4 separate regions of the Homo sapiens genome follow, and regions 2, 3 and 4 are each reported to be linked to region 1. The links are microRNA targets in miRTarBase. Many come from high-throughput screens and were not tested one by one. Region 1 holds a microRNA gene; each other region holds the end of a gene's coding sequence.
What was found. The annotated mature microRNA hsa-miR-378c reads ACUGGACUUGGAGUCAGAAGAGUGG and lies in region 1 at 1,857-1,881, opposite strand. An mRNA with a match to its seed (bases 2 to 7 or 8) in the 3' UTR can be bound and repressed. Matches are read on the target gene's strand: a 7mer-m8 pairs with bases 2 to 8, a 7mer-A1 pairs with bases 2 to 7 and ends in A, and an 8mer does both.

Region 1 (5,641 bases):
GAGGCTAAGGCTGGGTATTGGGGGCAGATGGTGGCAATGCCATCTTCTGGAAGGCATGTGGCATGATGCACTTACCTTGACTCACTTTGTGATGCTCACGTTTGGCCTTGGCGGGAGTTCAGTCAGATTCTGAGCTTCTGCTGAGGCCCAATGTCACTGTGTAGCCACTTCCTCTTCTTCCGATTGAGGCCTTAGCTGGGCCCCCTCTCTCTGAGGGGTTCACACAGAACACAGTCTGTCCCCCCAAAACCTGATCCTCCCACATCCTGAAGCAGGGGTATCAGTGGGGGAATGCATGGCAAAGCTAATCATCTGATTTTTATATTTCTAAAGCTGGGGAGCACCTCAAACTTTCCAGCAGACCCAGCTAGCTGGTAATGGCACTTGACTTTGCCATGGCCTTATAGCTCATCTCTGTCTTTCAGCAGATGTGACACAAGTCAAGTCAGCATCTGTCCACCCTGGTTGTCTTTACAGAGCTGGTCAGTGGTGGGTGCCAGGGGCAGGCCTCTGTTTTCACCCTGTTTCTCCCCTGAAGCCATGTGAGTTGGCATGAACATACAAGAATAGAGGTCTGAGAGTGTCCCTGTCCTGGTCGTGACCTCAGTCCACTTTTCTAGCTGGCTCCTTTATTTGGACAATGATCATTTCTCAAAATCCAGGTGAGACATGACAATCCCATCACGTTTCATCATGATGCAATGGCAGGAATTCTGGAAAACCCCAGTGAGACTGATTCACTTTCTAACCCATGTTTCTCATTTCAGGTAGAGAGAGCCACAGCTTGCCCATCAGCACAATGGTGAGAATTAACTAAACATGTGTATCTTGAGGTACATCTGGGAGGTGGGTGACAATGCAAAAGACCCTATCAGGAGACACCCAGACACTTAGAATCTGTCTTGAGGGTCACAACCAGTGTGAGTGGATGTGATAAATGCAGGTGCAGCTTAGATGATAAATACCTTAGGCAGTCCCCCAAGGAAGAGACCAGTGCATGTGCAGATAGCTCGGGGAAGAGAAAGTCTGGGGTGGGGTGGGGGTCTTTCTGCACAGTGCTCTGGCTGTGGAGCTGGAATACCAGGATTGCTCCCACTGGAGACAGAGGCACTTTGTCATGGCACCTTGCATGAGTGGATGTGGGCATAACCACCTTCCTTGAAAGGGGGGTTGAGATTCAGAGGCAGACACTGAGCCCCTCCTTGGCCCCTCCTATCTGCCCTCCTCCTATGAGCATGAGCAGCTTCTACCCCATCTCTGTGTGCCTCGCAGGTTCACAGCTTCCTCAGCTCCCATCTCTCGTCTTGGAGGTTGTCTTCTGTGCTCCCTCATCTCGCCTCCTTTGTGTGCTCATTGACATCTCTGCGGACAGAGTGTCAGTCCTGTCCCTCCAAGCCCTTCCTGAGACCCCAGTACCACTCCCTCTTCCCTGAGACCAGGGTCCTCCTCTCCTGGGCACACCTGCTCCTCCCCTCTCAATGCAGCTGGGGGAACTGGAACCTCTTGGTTGCAAACAGCATTGGCTGATGCTGCACCCATGGGCCTGGGCATCCTCGAGGGCCAGGAAGCTGAGTAGTGGGAGTACCCACGGGGTGAGTGGAGCCAACATTCACCCTTGCCCGAGGCTCTGATCTCGGCAATGGGAACCCCCGCTGGTCTTGGAGGAGAGGCCACCAAGAGATGAAATCACTCGTGCTTGGTGGCATGGTGGCATCTGCGGTGCTCACTTTTCCATACTTGCTGTCTTCCCTGGTTTCATCCTCCCAGGGCAGTTACTTTTTATCCTCACCATGCATGAACGTTTGAGTTTGAGGCACTCACCACCTTCAAAGTCAGAGTTGAAGTCTGACCCGACTCCACTCTTCTGACTCCAAGTCCAGTGATGGCCTCCGAGTGGAGGGTGGAGGATTCCGTGGGTGGCCCTGGGAGCTACAGCAGGAGGGGAGGCTCCTGCACTGAGGAGCAGTAAGGCTCAGGGGTGGCCGTGTACACTGAGACGGGAGCTCCCAGGGCAGCCCAGAGGGAAGTGACCACCTCACGTGGTGACCTCATGTGAGGGACTGGTTTCCCTAGAAGCAGAGCTGGAAACAAGGGCTCTGGTTCAAGCGCATAAGGCAGTGTCTCAGGAGAAACCCTTGACGGAGGGAGAGAAGCAGTGAAAATAAGAGAGGAAGCTGAAGAATGCAGCTTAGGGTCAAGGGCAGCCTCAATCTGCCCCGCGGGGACCCTGGATCATCCACATTGCTGTGGCGTCTGCCCTACCTGAATGCTCTGGGCCACCCTGGTTGGGCTGGGGTGTCCTGTCATCCACAAGCCTTCAGGCAAGGCAGCTCCAGCCTCCCAGGGCAGCCTCGGTGGAGGCTGCAGGTGCGAGCTGTTAGCAGCATCCTTCACCAGGAAGCAGCTGGCAAAGAAGATCCTTGGGTCCCCAGCAGGGCCCAGCAGGGTCCATCCATGGGCGAAGAGAAGACTAGAAGGCTCCACATCCCCACCTCCAGCTCTGGGCAGACGGGCAGCTGGGCCAGGCAGAGCTAGGAAGCTATGAAGGGCGTTATTTATTTTAAGTTTGGACACGTTTAGGTTAGAAGATGAATTGTCGGCAGGGCGCGGTGGCTCACTCAGCACTTTGGGAGGCTGAGGCGGGCGGATCATGAGGTCAGGAGATGGAGACCATCCTGGCTAACACGGTGAAACCTGTCTCTGCTAAAAATAAACATAAAAAAAATGTAAAATAAAAATAAAAATTAGCCGGGCGTAGTGGCAGGTGCCTGTAGTCCCAGCTACTCGGGAGGCTGAGGCAAGAGAATGGCGTGAACCCGGGAGGCGGAGCTTGCAGTGAGCCAAGATGGCGCCACTGGACTCCAGCCTGGGGGACAAAGCGAGACTCTGTCTCTGTCTCAAAAAAAAAAAAAAAAAAAAAAAAAAAGAGAGAGAGAGAGAAGATGAATTGTCTCCCAGTCAACCAGAAATCCAGGTTACCAAAGGCAATGGATGGAACCAGAGAGGAAGCCTTAATGTAGAACTGAAGGGGGGCAACCCAGGGTGCAGTTGAGTGACTCAAGAGAAGAGGGGGAAGGCCCTGCGAGGGCTGAGCCAGCCATGGAGAGGAAGGCCTGGCTAGGAGGCAGAATGGGCAGGAGCTCAGGCCACTGAAGAGGAGCCGTCCCCTGGCTGATCCCAGTGATGCAGAGAAGCCAGGGAGGGAGGGAGAACGGGGAGATGACCCCCATCTCCAGGAGAGATACTCCTCTGGGGAGAGGGCTGGTGCCACTTTCCCTCTAATGCTATAAAATAGGGAGCCTCACTGGGCCATGGGCCATGCAGATCTCTAGCCAAAAGTGAGTTCGGATGTGGCTATTGGTAGTGGGGGACTTGGAAGTTGTTAGGGGACCAGAAAAGGCTGGGTGTACTGGTCCTAGGTAAGGAGTATGTTTGTCACATGAAGGGGACTACCCGTCAGCCCAGTGCAGAGGTAGGAGCCTGCAGAGTGAGACTGGGCAAGGGGAGGGCTGGAGATTGCAGGAGAAAGAGCCACTAAGTCAGCGAGAGCATGCACGGTGAGGAAGAAGGAAGCCTTGCGGGGAACAGCCCAGCTGGCCTCGCCAGGAAGGCCCTTCCGCGTTTCCTCCTGCTGATTCACAACCAGGAGTAGGAAAGTGCAGGGGGCAGAGGGCCGCACCTCAGCGTGACCACCATCCATCTGTCCTTCCTGGCGGCTCCATGCTCCGGGGAGACGTCTGTAAGCATTAGCCCATGAGGAGGAAAGGAGACGATATATTCACAGACACTTTGGGAATAAAAGTGCTCCATAAATACAAAGAGTTAGCACCATGTCAAGGCAGAATTTATTTCAGAAACACAGCCTGATGCTCTGGGATGCTGAAATGCCAGGGCACCACACCATCTTGGTGATATGTTTGTCATTTGAATAGGTACATCTCTGCTTCCCCCATGCCGGCCAGGCCCAGAAGGAGACAGAAATAAATCAGCGGAAATTATCTATTTTCTACAGTGTCAAAACAACACTTTCTATGTTGGAGTTGGGAGAAAACCAATTCACCTCTTTTCCCAACCAGCAGAAACACGTTGCATCTCCCGAGTGTCCCAGGGAGAAGAAAGAAGAGAAACAAGAGAAGGTGGAGCCCGGGTACTGGGGGCTTCCGCTGAAGAGCACCTTTCCCACCGCACCTTAACCCCGGGATCTAGAGGACTCCTGGGAAAATGGTTCTGCAGCTTACCATCCATCTAGGGAACATTTCCAGGAGACTCACGAACCCACTGACCTTCCCTGCACCCAGCTACCTGCCCCTTTGAAGGGCGCCCAGCAGGCTGGCCTCCAGGTCCCCATCCTGTAAACCAAACTCCTGGGGTCTGGGTCTTTTCTTCGTGTACCATGACTCATTTACTTGATCCAATTCCTCCTTTTCTTTTTTCTTTTTTTGAGATGGAGTTTCACTCTTGTTGCCCAGGCTGGAGTGCAATGGCACGATCTTGGCTCACTGCAACCTCCACCTCCCAGGTTCAAGCAATTCTCCTGCCTCGCCTCCCAAGTAGCTGGAATTACAGGCGCCTGCCACCATGCCCAACAAATTTTTGTGTTTTTAGTAGAGAGGGGTTTCATCATGTTGGCCAGGCTGGTCTCAAACTGCTGACCTCAGGTGATTCACCTGCCTTGTTCTCCCAAAATGCTGAGATTATAGGCGTGAGCCACTGCAACTAGCCCCAGTTCATCCTTTTCAACTCTTAGTACAACTGCACAGAGATGTGTCATCCTGGAAAGGGACTGACATTCTCATGGCAGACAGCTGAGACATCAGCAGGAAAACACTGACCAAGGAGACCAGAGACACAGGTCCTGGTCAAGTCCTGGCTCAGTGAATTCACTGGAAAATGTGAGTTGGAAATATTTGCCTTGCAGATCTGGAGTTACTAATAGAATCAAGTGGTAATGTTTAATTAAATCTCCTGCAAACTGTGAGGGTGGTATCTACTCTTATTTGATTGAAGTATCTTCTACATAGTGGTGGCTCATGCCTGTAATCCTAGGAGTTCGAGACCAGCCTGGCCAACATGGTGAGACCCTGTCTCTAATAAAAATACAAAAAATTAGCCAGGTGCAGTGGTTCATGCCTGTAATCTGAGCAACTCGGGAGGCTGAGGTGGGAGGATCGCTTGAACCTAGGAGGTCGAGGCTGTAGTGACCCAAGATCACACCACTGAACTTCAGCCTGGGCAACAGAGCAAGACCTTGTTTTAAAAAAAAAGAGAGAGAGAAATATCTTCTACATATGATTACATCTCTCAACTAATATCTTGTCCTCATCCTCAAGGTTAAAACCAATGGATATCTGAAAAACAGACTCAGATTATCTGTGTTAATGCACCTGCCTCTCATCTGCCTTCAAACCGCACTTGCCAGGTTGCTCAGTTATTTCACCTTTATTGTTGCTGCTTTGGACCACAAAAGGGCTCTGAGGTCCATCTCTGTCTATTGCAAGGGCATCCTCTGGACCATGAGTGGCATGCCAGTTTTGGGCTTCTCTGGAATATCTCTTTTGTACATTACTAAATTAGTTCATTTCTATCTTGATATCTAGTATCACCAAACCGCAGTCATTAAATGATGGACTAGACCTTCAAG
Region 2 (5,497 bases), not on the chromosome of region 1:
TTCCATCTCAGCCCTTAGACCCTTCCAATTGGGCATGGAACTCTACCTTCACTGAGAGTTCTACCAGTGACTTCCAAATGCAAGATACTCAGTGGGAGAGGCTGGTGGCCTCGGTTCCTGCTTTGTACTCTGATGCCTATGACATATTCCAAATCATAGAACTGTACAATCTTCCTGATGAGAATGAGATATCCAGCTCTTCTTTCCACTGTCTGTATCAGTATCTCTCACCCACAAAGTACCAGGTAGGAGGACAGGGTTCCTCTCTCAGCATCTTTGCTGGTCCAGCTGTAGGCCTATCTCCTGCACAAACCTGGCCCAATATGACAAGCCAAGCCTTTGAAGCCTACAGTCTAACAGATAGCCTGGAATTCCAGAAAACCTCCAATATGGTAGACTTGGGATTTCTCTGACCAGAGTACTAATAAATATAGATCATTTAGAAAAGTGGTCTTCTTGCCTCTTGTACATGACTGTTTTTTTCCTTTGTCTCATTTTAACCCAACATCTGGGTCTGTGTCTCTGATTTCCATGTAAATGTTGCAAAAAGAGTTTTCCAAGTAGAGCTGGGCACTACGTAATCAGCCCCACAAGTCTCCCTGAGAAGCCTGCCTAGTCCCTTTCATGGCCAATGAGACTCCAAAATTCCCTTCCCAAAACTATCTTGGATTTTCTAAAAGTAGGACAGTGGTTTTGGGGGTTATCCACTTTTATTTTTTTGAAACTAGCTCTCATTCTGTCACCCAGGCTGGAATACAGTGGTACAGTCACGGCTCACAAAAGCCTTGACCTCCTGGGCTCAGGTGATCCTCCCACCTCAGCCTCCTGAGTAGCTAGGACTACAGATGCTCGCCACCACACCTGGCTAATTTTTTTTTTTTGAGACTGAGTCTCGCACTGTCACCCAGGGTGGAGTGCAGTGGCGGGATCTCAGCTCAGTGCAACCTCCACCTCCTGGGGTTCAAGTGATTCTCCTGTGTCAGCCTCCTGAGTAGCTGGGATTACAGGCGTGTGCCACCATGCCTGGCTAACTTTTGTATTTTTAGTAGAGACGGGGTTTCACCACGTTGCCCAGGCTGGTCTTGAACTCCTGACCTCCAGTGATCCGCCTGCCTTGACCTCCCAAAGTGCTGGGATTACAGACATGAGCCACCGAGCCTGGCCAATTTTTGTGTTTTTTGTAGAGACGAGGTTTTGCCATGTTGCCCAGGCTGGTCTCCAACTCCTGGACTTAACGCCATCCACCTGCCACAGCCTCCCAAAGTGCTAGGAATACAGGAGTGCACCATCGCACCCGGCTGGGTTATCTAGTTTAAAAACACTTTTTTTCAAGGAAACCGAAGAAACCATCATCCACTTTTCTCTCTGTATCATTCTGATTTTAGTATATGTGTTGTGGAAGTGAGTACACTATCATCCACTTTTAATGACAGAAAGTTATAAACTTACATTTTGTTTCCAATTTTTCATTTTTTGTTTGTTATTTGTTTTTTGTAGACAGCACTCTGTCACCCAGGCTGGAGTGCAGTGGCACCATCTTGGCTCACTGCAGCCTCTGCCTCCTGGGCTCAAACAGTCCTCCCACCTCAGCCTTCTGAGTAGCTGAGACTACAGACATGCGCCACCATGTCTGGCTAATTTTTGTATTTTTAGTGGAGATGGGGTTTCGCCTTGTTGCCCAGGCTGAATTTGGGTTTTTTTAAAATGAGACTTTCAGTCCTAATTTGAGGGGAAATTACTGTCACCACTAGTTTTAATATAGTACAATGAAAAAATAATATATATATATATAGTACAATGGTCCAGACATAATAAGAGGTGTAAAAACTATCACAGGAAGAAATAAAAACAGATTTTTGAAGGTGAGATGATAAACTTGCAAAACTCACAAAATAAAGAGTCAAACTTTTAGAATGACAAGTTAGCATATTTTCCAGCCACATGATCAACCTACAAAATTAATACCATTTCTGAACACCAGTAATAAAGAAACATAAGGGCTGGGGGTGGTGGCTCATGCCTGTAATCCCAGCACTTTGGGAGGCCGAGGCGGGCGGATCACGAGGTCAGGAGATTGAGACCAGCCTGACTAACATGGTGAAATCCCGTCTCTACTAAAAATACAAAAAAAAAAAAAAAAAAAAGCCAGGCATGGTGGCACACACCTGTAATCCCAGCTACTCGGGAGGCTGAGGAAGGAGAATTGCTTGAACCTGGGAGGTGGAGGTTGCAGTGAGCTGAGGTCGCACCACTGCACTCCAGCCTGGACAACAGAGCAAGACTCTGTCTCAAAAAAAAAATAAAAAATAAAAAATAAAAAATAAAAGAAACATAAGATAAGTACCTCTCAATGAAAAATGTAAAAGTACCTAGAAATTCACAAAAAAATTAATACCTCTGTGGAGAAAACTTCAAAACTTAAAAAAGGACATAGAAAATGTTTTGAATAGGCCAGGCGCAGTGGCTCACACCTGTAATCCCAGCACGTTGGGAGGCCAAGGCGGGCAGATCACGAGGTCAAGAGATCAAGACCATCCTGGCCAACATGGTGAAATCCTGCCTCTACTAAAAATACAAAAAAAAAAAAAAATTAGCTGGGCATGGTGGCACACACCTGTAGTCCCAGCTACTTGGGAGGCTGAGGCAGGAGAATCACAAGGATTGAAACTATGCAGTGTGTTCTCCAAACATGATGGAACGAAATTAGAAATCAATAAAATTTGGGAAATTCACAAATATGTGGATATTAAACAACACATTCCTAAATAACCAGTGGTTAAAGAGGTAATCACAGTCTGAGCAACATGGCAAAACCCTGTGTCTACAAAAAATAAAAAATTAGCTGGGCATGACGGCCAGAGCCCATGGTCCCAGCTACTCGAGAGGCTGAGGTAAGAGCATCCCTTGAGCCACAGAGGTCGAGGCTGCAGTGAGCTGTGACTGTGCCACTGCACTCCAGCTTGAGCAACACAGTGATACTGTCTCAATAAATAAATAAATAGAAGAAATCATGAGTAAAATTGGAAAACACTTTTAACTGAAAAAAACAAAAGCACAACAAACCAAAACATGGGATGAAGCTAAATCAATGCTTAGAAGGAAATTTATAGCTTCAAATACTTATATACATATTTTTTAAAAGTAGCTTTACATAGGAAGGAAGTGGCATAGTTTTATCAATATCTGTCAAATTAAACTTCAAGGCAAAACTTTTTTATTGAGATGGAGTCTTGCTCTGTCACCCAGGCCGTGCAATCTCGGCTCACTGCAACCTCCGCCTCCTGGGTCAAATGATTCTCCTGCTTTAGCCTCCCAAGTAGCTGGGACTACAGGTGTACGCCACCACACCCAGCTAATTTTTGTATTTTTAGTAGGGACAGGTTTTGCCATGTTGCCCAGGCTGGCCTCAAACTCCTGAGCTCAAGTGATCCTCCCGTCTCAGCCTCCCAAAGGGCTGAGATTACAGGTGTGAGCTACCTCACCTGGCCAAAACAGTTTTTTTAGAAATGAAGTATATTAGACAACAACAAAAGGAACAACTAACCTGAAATATATAATAACTTTGAACTTAAATATACTTAACAACATATACCAAAAATATATGAGGCAAATTTTAGCAAAAATTAAAATTCTTAAGAAAACTTCACTAATATATAGTCATAATGTGGTATATTCATAGAACATTCTCAATAATTGATAATAACAGTCCAAAGAAAGCAGAAAGAAGGAAAGCCTAGAACAGAAATAAATGAAATAGAGAATAGAAAAGCAATACAGAAAAAAAATTATGAAATCAAAAGCTGGTTCTTTGAAAAGATCTACAAAATGGCAAACATTTAGCTAGATTGACCACCCCCTCAAAAGACTCAAATTACTAGAATCAGAAACAAAAGTCAAGATTTTATTACCAAACTTATAGAAATAAAAATTATTAGAAAGAAATACTATGAACAATTGAATGCCAACAAATTAGATAAATGAAATGGACAAATTCCTAGGAAGACACAGAATACCAAATCTGACTCCACAAGAAATAGATGTTGTGAATAGAGCTTGCTATGGTATGAATGTGTCCCCCACAGCTCATGCGTTGGAAACTTAATCCCCAAAGCAACAGCTTTGAGAGGTGAGACCTTTAAGGGTTACTAGGCAGAGCCCCCATGAATGGATTAATGCCATTATTGTGGGAGTGGGTTAGTTATCTCAGAAGTGGGTTCCTGATAAAAGGATGAGTTCGGCCTTCTTCTTCCCCAAAATCTTTATCCCCACCCCCACCTCTATCTTTCTCTCTCTCTCTTACCTCCTCCTCTCCCTTCCTTCTGCCATGGGAGGATGAAACATGAAGGCCCTGGCCAGGTGTGGCCCCTCCATCTTCCGTCTGAGACTGGAAGACTTCCCAGCCTTCAGAACTGTAAGAAATAAATCTCTCTTCATAAATTACCCAGTCTCAGGTATTCTGTTATAACAACACAAAAACAGACTGAGACAGAGTTATAACAAGCACAGAGATTGAGTTAACAATTGAAAACTTCCCACAAAGAAAAGCCCAGTCCCAGATGGCTTCACTGCTAAATTCTACCAAAATGTTTAAAGAAGAATTAACACCAATCCTTCATAAACTTTTCCAAAAAAAACAAAAGAGGAGGGAACTCATTTTATGAGATCGATATTATCTGGATACCAAAGCTGAACAAAGACGCCATAAGGGAACTACAGATTATAGTGAGTATCCCCTATTGGAAATGCTTGGAACCAGAAGCGTTTCAGATTTGGAGTTTTTGGAATATTTGCACATACATAATGAGATATCTTGGGGATGGGACACCAGCCTAAACACAACTCATTTATGTTTCATATACACCTTATATACATAGCCTGAAGGTAATTGCACAATATTTTAAGTAACTCTGTGGATGAAACAAAGTTTCGAGTGCGTTTTGACTATGACCCACCATATGAGGCCAAGTGTGGAACTTTCCTCTTGTGGTGTCACATCAGCACTCAAATAATTTTGGATTTTAAAGCATTTTGGAATTCAGATTTCAGATTGGGGATACTCAACCTGTAATACCTCTTCTGAATATAGACGCAAAAATCCTCAATAAGATCCTTTTGTAGTTCATGAATGTGATGATTGGGCATTCACGTGGATGTGTGAGTGCTACCCTCGAAGCTTGTTTCAACATTGGCACATTATGCATCTGACTTGAAAAAACAAATTCTCAATAAAATACTAACAAACTAAATTTAGCAACATATAAAAAGGATAGATACCATGACCAAGTAGGGTTTATTCAGGAATGGAAGATTGATTCAACATAAAAAAATTCATCAATGTAATACACGATATTAATAGAATAAAGGACAAAAACCACATGATCATCTTGCTGGGCACAGAAAAAGCATTTGATGAAGATCCACACTCTTTCTTGATTCACTCAACAAACTAGAACAAACTATCAAACTCCTCTCCTTCAACTTGATAAAGGCCATCTAC
Region 3 (5,641 bases), not on the chromosome of region 1:
TAAGAAAGTGAATAATTATTTCTTATAGGAGATCTTAGAGATCACTTTTATGTCATTTCTAGCATCACTGTGTTTATGAAGCAATGGTAAAAAAACAGGCTTTTTTTTTTTTAATGAAAATTGAGGATACCTTAAATTGGCCTGAGGAGACACTTAACGTAGAAAGATTTCATTTCCTTCCTTCCTTATTTATTTATTTAAAGAAACAGGGTCTGGGTCTGTTGTCCAAGCTGGTCCTGAACTCCTACACTCAAGTGATCCTTCAAAGTGTTGGGATTACAGGCGTGAGCCACCGTGCCCAGCCTGTAGAAAGATTTCACATTGCATACAGGTGTCTTTTTCTATACCCAAAGGTAGATTAAAGCTCTTATGAGAGCTTTGATAAAACTTTTTATTCTTCTACTTATTCATGTATTCATTTCTTCACTTAGTACATGAATCTCATTTTGTCCAGAGAAGACTTACTAGGGCCACAAGATAAAAGCAAAGTCTGTAGAGTTCCTGATCTGGAGGGAGCTCTTAATCTAGATGGGATTGAAATGTATACTCAAGAAACAACTTCATTTACAGAGTAGTGTAGAAATAAGACCAAATGCTATAAGGATCAAGTTTTGTGGGGACCTAGGATGTATGTGCAGCCAAGCACTGATCAGAGGAAAGACTTACTGGAAAAACCGGGAAAATCTGTTGAATGAGCAATTTTTTCCAATCTGACTCTTACAGAATCATTTGCTTAAGATGTGTGGAAAACGAGTTCCGTGTGGGAAAATAATGACTTTGGTGATTGCTAAGGTCACATATCAGTTTGACTGTAATTTAGGAAATTAGCAACCAAAAATAATTTTAAATTGCCTACTCAGTGCTGTGACTGCTAACAATGTGGAATTCTTTTTAAAAACGAATTGCGTTCATTTTCCGTCTTTCCCTATGTTGTCTCTCCTCTCCTGTGTCCTTTCAGGTCCTGAGCTTATATAATACCATAAATCCAGAAGCATCTGCTTCTCCTTGCTGCGTGTCCCAAGATTTAGAACCTCTAACCATTCTCTACTACATTGGCAAAACACCCAAGATTGAACAGCTTTCTAATATGATTGTAAAGTCTTGCAAATGCAGCTAAAATTCTTGGAAAAGTGGCAAGACCAAAATGACAATGATGATGATAATGATGATGACGACGACAACGATGATGCTTGTAACAAGAAAACATAAGAGAGCCTTGGTTCATCAGTGTTAAAAAATTTTTGAAAAGGCGGTACTAGTTCAGACACTTTGGAAGTTTGTGTTCTGTTTGTTAAAACTGGCATCTGACACAAAAAAAGTTGAAGGCCTTATTCTACATTTCACCTACTTTGTAAGTGAGAGAGACAAGAAGCAAATTTTTTTTAAAGAAAAAAATAAACACTGGAAGAATTTATTAGTGTTAATTATGTGAACAACGACAACAACAACAACAACAACAAACAGGAAAATCCCATTAAGTGGAGTTGCTGTACGTACCGTTCCTATCCCGCGCCTCACTTGATTTTTCTGTATTGCTATGCAATAGGCACCCTTCCCATTCTTACTCTTAGAGTTAACAGTGAGTTATTTATTGTGTGTTACTATATAATGAACGTTTCATTGCCCTTGGAAAATAAAACAGGTGTATAAAGTGGAGACCAAATACTTTGCCAGAAACTCATGGATGGCTTAAGGAACTTGAACTCAAACGAGCCAGAAAAAAAGAGGTCATATTAATGGGATGAAAACCCAAGTGAGTTATTATATGACCGAGAAAGTCTGCATTAAGATAAAGACCCTGAAAACACATGTTATGTATCAGCTGCCTAAGGAAGCTTCTTGTAAGGTCCAAAAACTAAAAAGACTGTTAATAAAAGAAACTTTCAGTCAGAATAAGTCTGTAAGTTTTTTTTTTTCTTTTTAATTGTAAATGGTTCTTTGTCAGTTTAGTAAACCAGTGAAATGTTGAAATGTTTTGACATGTACTGGTCAAACTTCAGACCTTAAAATATTGCTGTATAGCTATGCTATAGGTTTTTTCCTTTGTTTTGGTATATGTAACCATACCTATATTATTAAAATAGATGGATATAGAAGCCAGCATAATTGAAAACACATCTGCAGATCTCTTTTGCAAACTATTAAATCAAAACATTAACTACTTTATGTGTAATGTGTAAATTTTTACCATATTTTTTATATTCTGTAATAATGTCAACTATGATTTAGATTGACTTAAATTTGGGCTCTTTTTAATGATCACTCACAAATGTATGTTTCTTTTAGCTGGCCAGTACTTTTGAGTAAAGCCCCTATAGTTTGACTTGCACTACAAATGCATTTTTTTTTTAATAACATTTGCCCTACTTGTGCTTTGTGTTTCTTTCATTATTATGACATAAGCTACCTGGGTCCACTTGTCTTTTCTTTTTTTTGTTTCACAGAAAAGATGGGTTCGAGTTCAGTGGTCTTCATCTTCCAAGCATCATTACTAACCAAGTCAGACGTTAACAAATTTTTATGTTAGGAAAAGGAGGAATGTTATAGATACATAGAAAATTGAAGTAAAATGTTTTCATTTTAGCAAGGATTTAGGGTTCTAACTAAAACTCAGAATCTTTATTGAGTTAAGAAAAGTTTCTCTACCTTGGTTTAATCAATATTTTTGTAAAATCCTATTGTTATTACAAAGAGGACACTTCATAGGAAACATCTTTTTCTTTAGTCAGGTTTTTAATATTCAGGGGGAAATTGAAAGATATATATTTTAGTCGATTTTTCAAAAGGGGAAAAAAGTCCAGGTCAGCATAAGTCATTTTGTGTATTTCACTGAAGTTATAAGGTTTTTATAAATGTTCTTTGAAGGGGAAAAGGCACAAGCCAATTTTTCCTATGATCAAAAAATTCTTTCTTTCCTCTGAGTGAGAGTTATCTATATCTGAGGCTAAAGTTTACCTTGCTTTAATAAATAATTTGCCACATCATTGCAGAAGAGGTATCCTCATGCTGGGGTTAATAGAATATGTCAGTTTATCACTTGTCGCTTATTTAGCTTTAAAATAAAAATTAATAGGCAAAGCAATGGAATATTTGCAGTTTCACCTAAAGAGCAGCATAAGGAGGCGGGAATCCAAAGTGAAGTTGTTTGATATGGTCTACTTCTTTTTTGGAATTTCCTGACCATTAATTAAAGAATTGGATTTGCAAGTTTGAAAACTGGAAAAGCAAGAGATGGGATGCCATAATAGTAAACAGCCCTTGTGTTGGATGTAACCCAATCCCAGATTTGAGTGTGTGTTGATTATTTTTTTGTCTTCCACTTTTCTATTATGTGTAAATCACTTTTATTTCTGCAGACATTTTCCTCTCAGATAGGATGACATTTTGTTTTGTATTATTTTGTCTTTCCTCATGAATGCACTGATAATATTTTAAATGCTCTATTTTAAGATCTCTTGAATCTGTTTTTTTTTTTTTTAATTTGGGGGTTCTGTAAGGTCTTTATTTCCCATAAGTAAATATTGCCATGGGAGGGGGGTGGAGGTGGCAAGGAAGGGGTGAAGTGCTAGTATGCAAGTGGGCAGCAATTATTTTTGTGTTAATCAGCAGTACAATTTGATCGTTGGCATGGTTAAAAAATGGAATATAAGATTAGCTGTTTTGTATTTTGATGACCAATTACGCTGTATTTTAACACGATGTATGTCTGTTTTTGTGGTGCTCTAGTGGTAAATAAATTATTTCGATGATATGTGGATGTCTTTTTCCTATCAGTACCATCATCGAGTCTAGAAAACACCTGTGATGCAATAAGACTATCTCAAGCTGGAAAAGTCATACCACCTTTCCGATTGCCCTCTGTGCTTTCTCCCTTAAGGACAGTCACTTCAGAAGTCATGCTTTAAAGCACAAGAGTCAGGCCATATCCATCAAGGATAGAAGAAATCCCTGTGCCGTCTTTTTATTCCCTTATTTATTGCTATTTGGTAATTGTTTGAGATTTAGTTTCCATCCAGCTTGACTGCCGACCAGAAAAAATGCAGAGAGATGTTTGCACCATGCTTTGGCTTTCTGGTTCTATGTTCTGCCAACGCCAGGGCCAAAAGAACTGGTCTAGACAGTATCCCCTGTAGCCCCATAACTTGGATAGTTGCTGAGCCAGCCAGATATAACAAGAGCCACGTGCTTTCTGGGGTTGGTTGTTTGGGATCAGCTACTTGCCTGTCAGTTTCACTGGTACCACTGCACCACAAACAAAAAAACCCACCCTATTTCCTCCAATTTTTTTGGCTGCTACCTACAAGACCAGACTCCTCAAACGAGTTGCCAATCTCTTAATAAATAGGATTAATAAAAAAAGTAATTGTGACTCAATCTGGTTGTCTTGCTTTGTCTAGTGAAAGAACTAGTGTGTGCCTGTTGTGTTGTCTAAACACCATCTAGAAACAAACCATCAATTCGAGTATTGAGATAGAAGAGAAAATGGTTCCCTTTTCTGCAGTCTCATCTGTGTTTGATCTTTCATAGTAAACTCATAGAGAGAGGAAGTTTGTCACTCTAAACCCATTAGTTCATGCTTCTGTGCAGCCTGGCTAGTCCCAGAGCTATCACCCCAACCCACATTATATTTAATTGATGAGTAAGAATAGAAGGTATTATAGAATCAGAGAGATGAAAAGAGCCACCTAACAGCCTTACCAACTTTGGCAAATTTGTCAGCAACTCTGGGCCTCTGTTTCTTTAAAATGAAGATGACAATCCCTGCTCTATAGCGTTTTGTCTGTGTGTTTTAGTGCCCTTGTTGTAGTTAAGTGAATAGACACGTGAAAAGGTACTTTGCTTAGTGTTTCTTCTGTAATTGGCAGAGTAAATGGCAGGCAGGCTTAACAATATTTCCAAGCCTGTTCTGTTTTTGGTTTCTTGGCAATCTTGTAATGAACTTTTAACCTCCAGACTATAACCTGGGCTCATATTTCTCCATCTTGATACTAAATGTATAAAACCTCCAGACCCTTATCTCATAAATTGATCAGGACATCAGTAATTCCTGAGAATATTCTATAACTCTATATGTTAACCTTTTGGTTACGGGACTGACAGAAGTTATTATAGGGAAAAAGTTCATTTTAAGCTTTACTGAAGTCCACCAATGAAAATTCAAAGTAAAAGAGAACAGTGGCTAGTTGAATGACCCACTCCCTAACATGATAATGCAGTATTGATAACTACAGTATTCTGAGCATCTACCAGACACTGTTCTCTTTTGATTTATTTAATCTCATATTTAATCCTAGGATGTAGGTTTTTAAAAGAATATAACTCCATTTTAAAGGGAAGTGAGCAGACTCAGAATGCTTAAATTACTTGTCCAAGACCACTCAGCTTGTAAGTGAAGGGTCCAGGACTTCATTGTCCATTATATTAGCCACTAGCCACATGTGGCCATTGAGCAATCAAAACATGGCTAATGTGAATTGAGATATGCCAGATGTGTAAAATATACACCAGATTTTGAAGACTTAGTACAAAAAAAGAGTGTAAAATGTAAAATGTCTTATTAATGATTTTTATATTGATTACATGTCTAAATAATACTATTTTGAATATATGGGATTAAATAAAGTATATTATTAATTTTACC
Region 4 (5,641 bases), not on the chromosome of region 1:
ACAAAAGCAAAGCCAAATGTAGCCACAAGATGAATAGGGTAATGTGCTGTAACTATGAAGATAGCCAGGAGTAAGAAGTCAGTTCACTACGTTTGTTCTCTTGTCCCCACCTCACCATTCTTTTCTAAAATTGTCTTGTTTTATTAATGAAAGCACTAGGAAAGGAGAAGAAAAAAAGAAGTGGGACTTTCTTTTTATTTTTTCCATTTCAGCATTCCTCTAACCCATTCCCCACACTCAGTTCCATCAGATGAAAATAACCATTTCTCTCATGAGAACCAAACTAAAGAAAGTTGATATAACAGTGGAAGTAGTGTGGTCCTTGGACTGATCCAAAATAAAGTCTTCTCGGTGGGCACAGTGGGATATGCCTGTAATCCCAGCTACTGAGGAGGCTGATGCGGGAGGATCACTGGAGCCCAGGAGTTTGAGACCAGCCTGGGCAACATAGCAAGACCGCATTTCCAAAAAAAAAAAAAAAAAACAGAAGATACAATTAGCGTATACATCTAGATGAGTATATATTAAAACATTTTTTAAAAATGAGATCAAAATAGGCCAGGCATGGTGGCTCACGCCTGTAATCCCAGCACTTTGGGAGGCTGAGGCGGGCAGATCACCTGAGGTCAGGAGTTTGAGACCAGCCTGGCCAACATGGCAAAACCCCGTCTCTACTAAAAATACAAAAATTAGCTGGGCATGGTGGCACACGGCTGTAGTCCTAGCTACTCAGGAGGCTGAGGCAGGAGAATCGCTTGAACCCGGGAGGCGGAGGTTGCAGTGAGTCGAGATCGCACCACTGTACTCCAGCCTGGGTGACAGAGTGAGACTCCATCTCAAAAAAAAAAAATCCAAATAAAGTCTTCTGTAAAGTATGGACACCTATGCCAAGTAATGACATAGTAAAAAACTACAGGTTTTATAGTTTTAAGAGATGACAGGATTATAAAAAGCAGGTAAGAATTAGTAAATTTGGGCCCTTCCTTTGAGATATTATGATTAAGAATCTTTAATCTCCTTTTTGTGCATAGGAGAATTTTTTAAAGGTCTGAAGCTCTCTTAAGTGGAGAGAGAAATTAGCATTTCAGTTTGGAGAGGAAATCGGGCTGCTTTTCTGTAAGAAAATACCTGGCTTATACATGTATAATTCATAAATAACTTATTTATGTAAATCATTTTGTTGTGGTTGTACTTGATAACTGTTGCTTGGTTCAAGAAACTTTCTAGAAATGCTAAATGGTTTATATATTTTTATAATGTTTGTTTCAAATTCCACTTAAATATCTGGGTTTAATGTTTATGGAGGATCTCATGGGAAGTTATCCCTTAATTTAATTCTTTCTCTTGGTTCACTTTTGTTTCAGCTTTCACCAACAATCACCAGTGGTTTACACAACATTGCAAGGAGCATTGAAACTCGAAACTACTCAGAAGGATTGACCATGCATACCCACATAGTTAGCACCAGCAACTTCAGTGAGACCTCTGCTTTCATGCCAGTTCTCAAAGTTGTTCTCACCCAGGCCAATAAGCTGGGTGTCTAAAAGGACAGCTTCTCTTCCACTCAATATTGCCATTTTTCCAAAGAAACATGTTAAAAAAAAAAATTATAAGACATGGACTAGTCCTCATTAGCATGTTTGCATAGCAACCAGTCAAGAGCATTTACACTATTTCTGCTGATATACTCACCTTAGAACTGCTCAGAACCCTGGTGCTTTATTTTTGTTTTAATCTTTTGTTGCCAGTGATGATTTTCCTATTCTGCAAATAGTGTATTTCCTGGATTACACATAGTATGGTTTCCTGAAGTATTCTGATAAATGTGTTTTTTAAAACCTCAATATACTTTTTAGAAAAGGAGCATCTGGTTATGCATAAAGCAGAGCTAAAACTAAATTTCTTTCATGTCCTCCCTACTTCCTCAGTGTCAATCAGATTAAAGTGTGTAATCCTATTTTATGTGTGTATAGTCTTTTTTGAAACAGCTGCTTAAAATTTAGTTTATTTTTTGTGTCTTAGGATTCCTGAGTAAATAACTACATCTACAAACTGCTACATGGGTTTTAGCAGATATTAATAAAAATGGGATCACTGGCTTTAACTATATAGGAAAAGACTGGACATTTTTGTTCTGTAGAATGCATTGAGCTTTTTTCTATTTGTAAATGTTTCAATATTCTGTTTGAGTTTTAAGACTAAATTGTGTCCATTTTATAGCTAGAAATTTTTTCACCTATTTTGTTTAAATTACCTATAGCTGTGCCAGGCATGGTGGCTCACGCTTGTAATCCCAGCACTTTGAGAGGCCGAAGCAGGCAGAGGTCGGGAGTTCGAGACCAGACTGGCCAACATGGAGAAACCCTGTCTCTACTAAAAGTACAGAATTAGCCGGGCGTGGTGGCGCATGCCTATAATCCCAGCTACTTGGGTGGCTGAGGCAGGAGAATTGCTTGAACCCGGGAGGCGGAGGTTGCGGTGAGCCGAGATCACGCCATTGCTGTCCAGTCTGGGCAATAAGAGCAAAACTCTTTCTCAAAAAAAAAAAAAAAAATTACCTGTAGCTTTGAGGTTTAAGTTCAGAAAGAAAGCTTTAATTTCAGTCAGCCTGTAAATCAAAGCCACACATTTTGCACCCAGTTTTTCTGTCAAGTGACTTTATTATCATCTGTCTTAAGAACAGTGTGGTAAGGCCGGGCGCGGTGGCTCACGCCTGTAATCCCAGCACTTTCAGAGGCCAAGGCAGGCGGATGACCTGAGGTCAGGAGTTCAAGACCAGCCTGACCAACATGGAGGAACCCCATCTCTACTAAAAATACAAAATTAGCCAGCCAGACGTGGTGGCACATGCCTGTAATCCCAGCTACTCGGGCGGCTGAGGCAGGAGAATCGCTTGAACCTGGGAGGCGGAGGTTGCAGTGAACCGAGATCGCACCATTGCACTCCAGCCTGGGCAACAGCCTCCATCTCAAAATAAATAAATAAATAAAAGAACAGTGTGGTAAACAAAAAATTAATGGTCCCTGTAGAATCTGGAGAAGAGTTAGATAATAATTTTCATAGTTTATGCAATATTCCTTAAGAGGGTTAAAAAACTAGAAAATAAACACTGTGGAGTAAGTTAAGTCAATTTTCTTCAGCCTGAGTGAAATAGTTTGCAAGAACCTCTTGATTCTATTTGCCAAGATTCCCTACTCAACAAATACATGCTGCATTTTAAAAAATTACCCTGGCTGGGTGCAGTGGCTCACACCTGTAATCCCTGCACTTTGGGAGAAGAGGCAGGAGGATCACTTGAGCCCAGGAGTTCAAGACTAGCCTGGGCTGTAGTGAGACCGTGTCTCTACTAAAAATAAAAAAAATTAGCCCGATGTGGTGACACATGCCTGTGGTCCCAGCTACTTGGGAGGCTGAGGCGGGAGGATCCCTTGAGCCCCAGAGGTCAAGGCTGCAGTGAGCTGTAATTGTGCCACTTCACTCCAGCCTGGGTGACAGACACCCTGTCCCAAAAAAGAAAGAAAAAAAAAAAAAAGAGTACCTTGATAGCATGTACATATGTTGGAGTCTCAGGAATGGACTATCTAGACTTATAAATGGATATATTGTCACCTAGCTCATTGGTTTCCTATGCACTTGATAGTGTGAGTCACACGCCTGTAATCCCAGCACTTTGGGAGGCCAAGGCAGGTGGATCTCGAGGTCAGGAGTTCAAGACCAGCCTGGCCAAGATGGTGAAACCGCGTCTCTACTAAAAATACAAAAACATTAGCCGGAGTGGTGGCAGGCGCTTGTAATCCCAGCTACTCGGGAGGCTGAGGCAGAGAATTGCTTGAACCCAGGAGGCGGAGATTGCAGTGAGCCAAGATCGTGCCACTGCACTCCAGCCTGGGCAACAGAGCGAGACTCCGTCTCAAAAATAAATAAATAAATAAAAATAAAAAGATAGTGTGAGTCAGTTCCACTACTCGTTGAAGTGACAAAGTGACCCTCTGGATTTGACCCTGAACAGTAGTATCAGCCCAAGACCATCTGCAGAGTGGACTGGCTTCAAGTTTTTTTTTTTAATTAATCACCCTTATAGTTAGAATTTGTTTTGCAGTTGCATGTTTATCTTGACATGACAATGGCATATTTGGTGTCATTCTACCAAAAAAAAACTATTTTCCAAAAGATGAGAAACGAGTAGGTGGCAGTGGAGCCCTGGCCAACCCAAAGATTTATTTAAGAATATGAGTGTATAGGCCGGGCGCGGTGGCTCACGCCTGTAATCCCAGCACTTTGGGAAGCTGAGGCGGGCAGATCACGAGGTCAGGAGATCGAGACCATCTGACTAACATGGTGAAACCCCGCCTCTACTAAAAATACAAAAAATTAGCCGGGCGTGGTGGCAGGTGTCTGTAGTCCCAGCTACTCTGGAGGCTGAGGCAGGAGAATGGCGTGAACCTAGGAGGCGGAGCTTGCAGTGAGCAGAGATCGCGCCTCTGCACTGCAGTCTGGGCGACAGTGCAAGACTCCATCTCAAAGAAAAAAAAATGAGTATGAGTGTATAAAACTACCTGCCACTGGTAGCAGGGCACCTGCTCTCTCCTTTTTCATTACATTGTGATTTTTTTTTCCACTTGCAGCCATTTCTCTATGTGGCTTATAATCTTGGAAGAGTTTCATATAAATGAATGGAGGTGAGATGAGCCAAACTCAAATTGTTTTTGTCTCTGAAATATGAAGATAATAGGCAATTAGAGAAAGTTTTTCTTCAGAAAAGACAACTTTTAAGAAGTTTTCTTTTTTAAAAAATGGAAAAAAAAGTCAACTTGATTTTGTAAATAATTCTATTTTTAATGTTTTCAACGTGGATGGCATTAGAGTATATGCCTGCACAATTCAGGAACCTCTGTTTAAGGCTGTTCTTATATAAAGATTTCACGGATCATACAAGTCTTTGTTGTGACATTTTGGAAAGTTAGAGCTGTATTTTCTACCCTTGTCATTACTTCATATATAGTGGCCAGTAATGCTTTCTGAATGCCAGGTCTGTTCAATTTACTTTTTATGATGTGTGCTTTTTTTTTAAAACCTACTTAATTTTAAAACAAGGGAAGGAATGTGAGGAAAGCTGGTGGGTGAGGCCGGGTGTTGGCCAGGAACTGTATCAGAGTCTCTGGAGGTGGTGCTTTTTATATTACTTCTGGTCCTCTTCTCCCTTCTTTATACCACCCTTTGGGTTTGATGGGATGGATGTACCCTTAGGCTGCACTTGAGAATCATTATGTGTAATCAGAGATAGAGTCAGTGGAGGTAGTTGTTCATTGGAGCAGTGTGGGGCAGGAAAAAGTTGGGAACAGAACTGCTCTATACCCAACTGTTGAGAGTCCAGTGAACCTATATATTCTTTGGATTCAGAAAATTGTCATGTATCCTGGAGGACAGGAAGATGCCATAGGATCCCTGGCGACCAGATGTACTTTGATGGCTCATGCCTGTAATTGCAACATTTTGTGAGGCTGAGGCAGGAGGATTGCTTGAGCCCAGGAGTTCAAGACCAGCTTGTGCAACATAATGAGACCCCATCGCTACAAAATAAATTTTTTTAAATTAGCCAGTCATGGTGGCACATGCCTATAGTTCCAGCTACTCAAGAGGC

Region 2: miRTarBase lists ARGFX as a target of hsa-miR-378c. Seed matches in the 3' UTR shown: 7mer-A1 at 1,801-1,807.
Region 3: the mRNA of TGFB2 is a reported target of hsa-miR-378c. Seed matches in the 3' UTR shown: 7mer-m8 at 2,795-2,801.
Region 4: miRTarBase lists SEC31A as a target of hsa-miR-378c. The part of its 3' UTR that is shown has no 7-base or 8-base seed match.

What each region holds. Positions count from the first base shown.
Region 1 is chr10:130,960,778-130,966,418 of GRCh38, forward strand. MIR378C (microRNA 378c) reads right to left here and starts at 1,891; the gene lies at 1,811-1,891.
Region 2 is chr3:121,586,188-121,591,684 of GRCh38, forward strand. ARGFX (arginine-fifty homeobox) reads left to right here. Exons shown (of 5, transcript NM_001012659.2): 5 at 1-4,435. The coding sequence ends at 413. It overlaps LOC124906360 (small nucleolar RNA U13), which reads left to right and starts at 5,107; the gene lies at 5,107-5,207.
Region 3 is chr1:218,440,246-218,445,886 of GRCh38, forward strand. It overlaps TGFB2 (transforming growth factor beta 2), which reads left to right. Exons shown (of 7, transcript NM_003238.6): 7 at 959-4,374. The coding sequence ends at 1,117. TGFB2-OT1 (TGFB2 overlapping transcript 1) reads left to right here and starts at 2,381. Exons shown (of 1, transcript NR_125715.1): 1 at 2,381-3,750.
Region 4 is chr4:82,814,977-82,820,617 of GRCh38, reverse strand. SEC31A (SEC31 homolog A, COPII component) reads left to right here. Exons shown (of 27, transcript NM_001077207.4): 27 at 1,365-2,109. The coding sequence ends at 1,544. Among named protein-coding and RNA genes, the nearest start is that of SCD5, 19 kb to the right of the region's middle.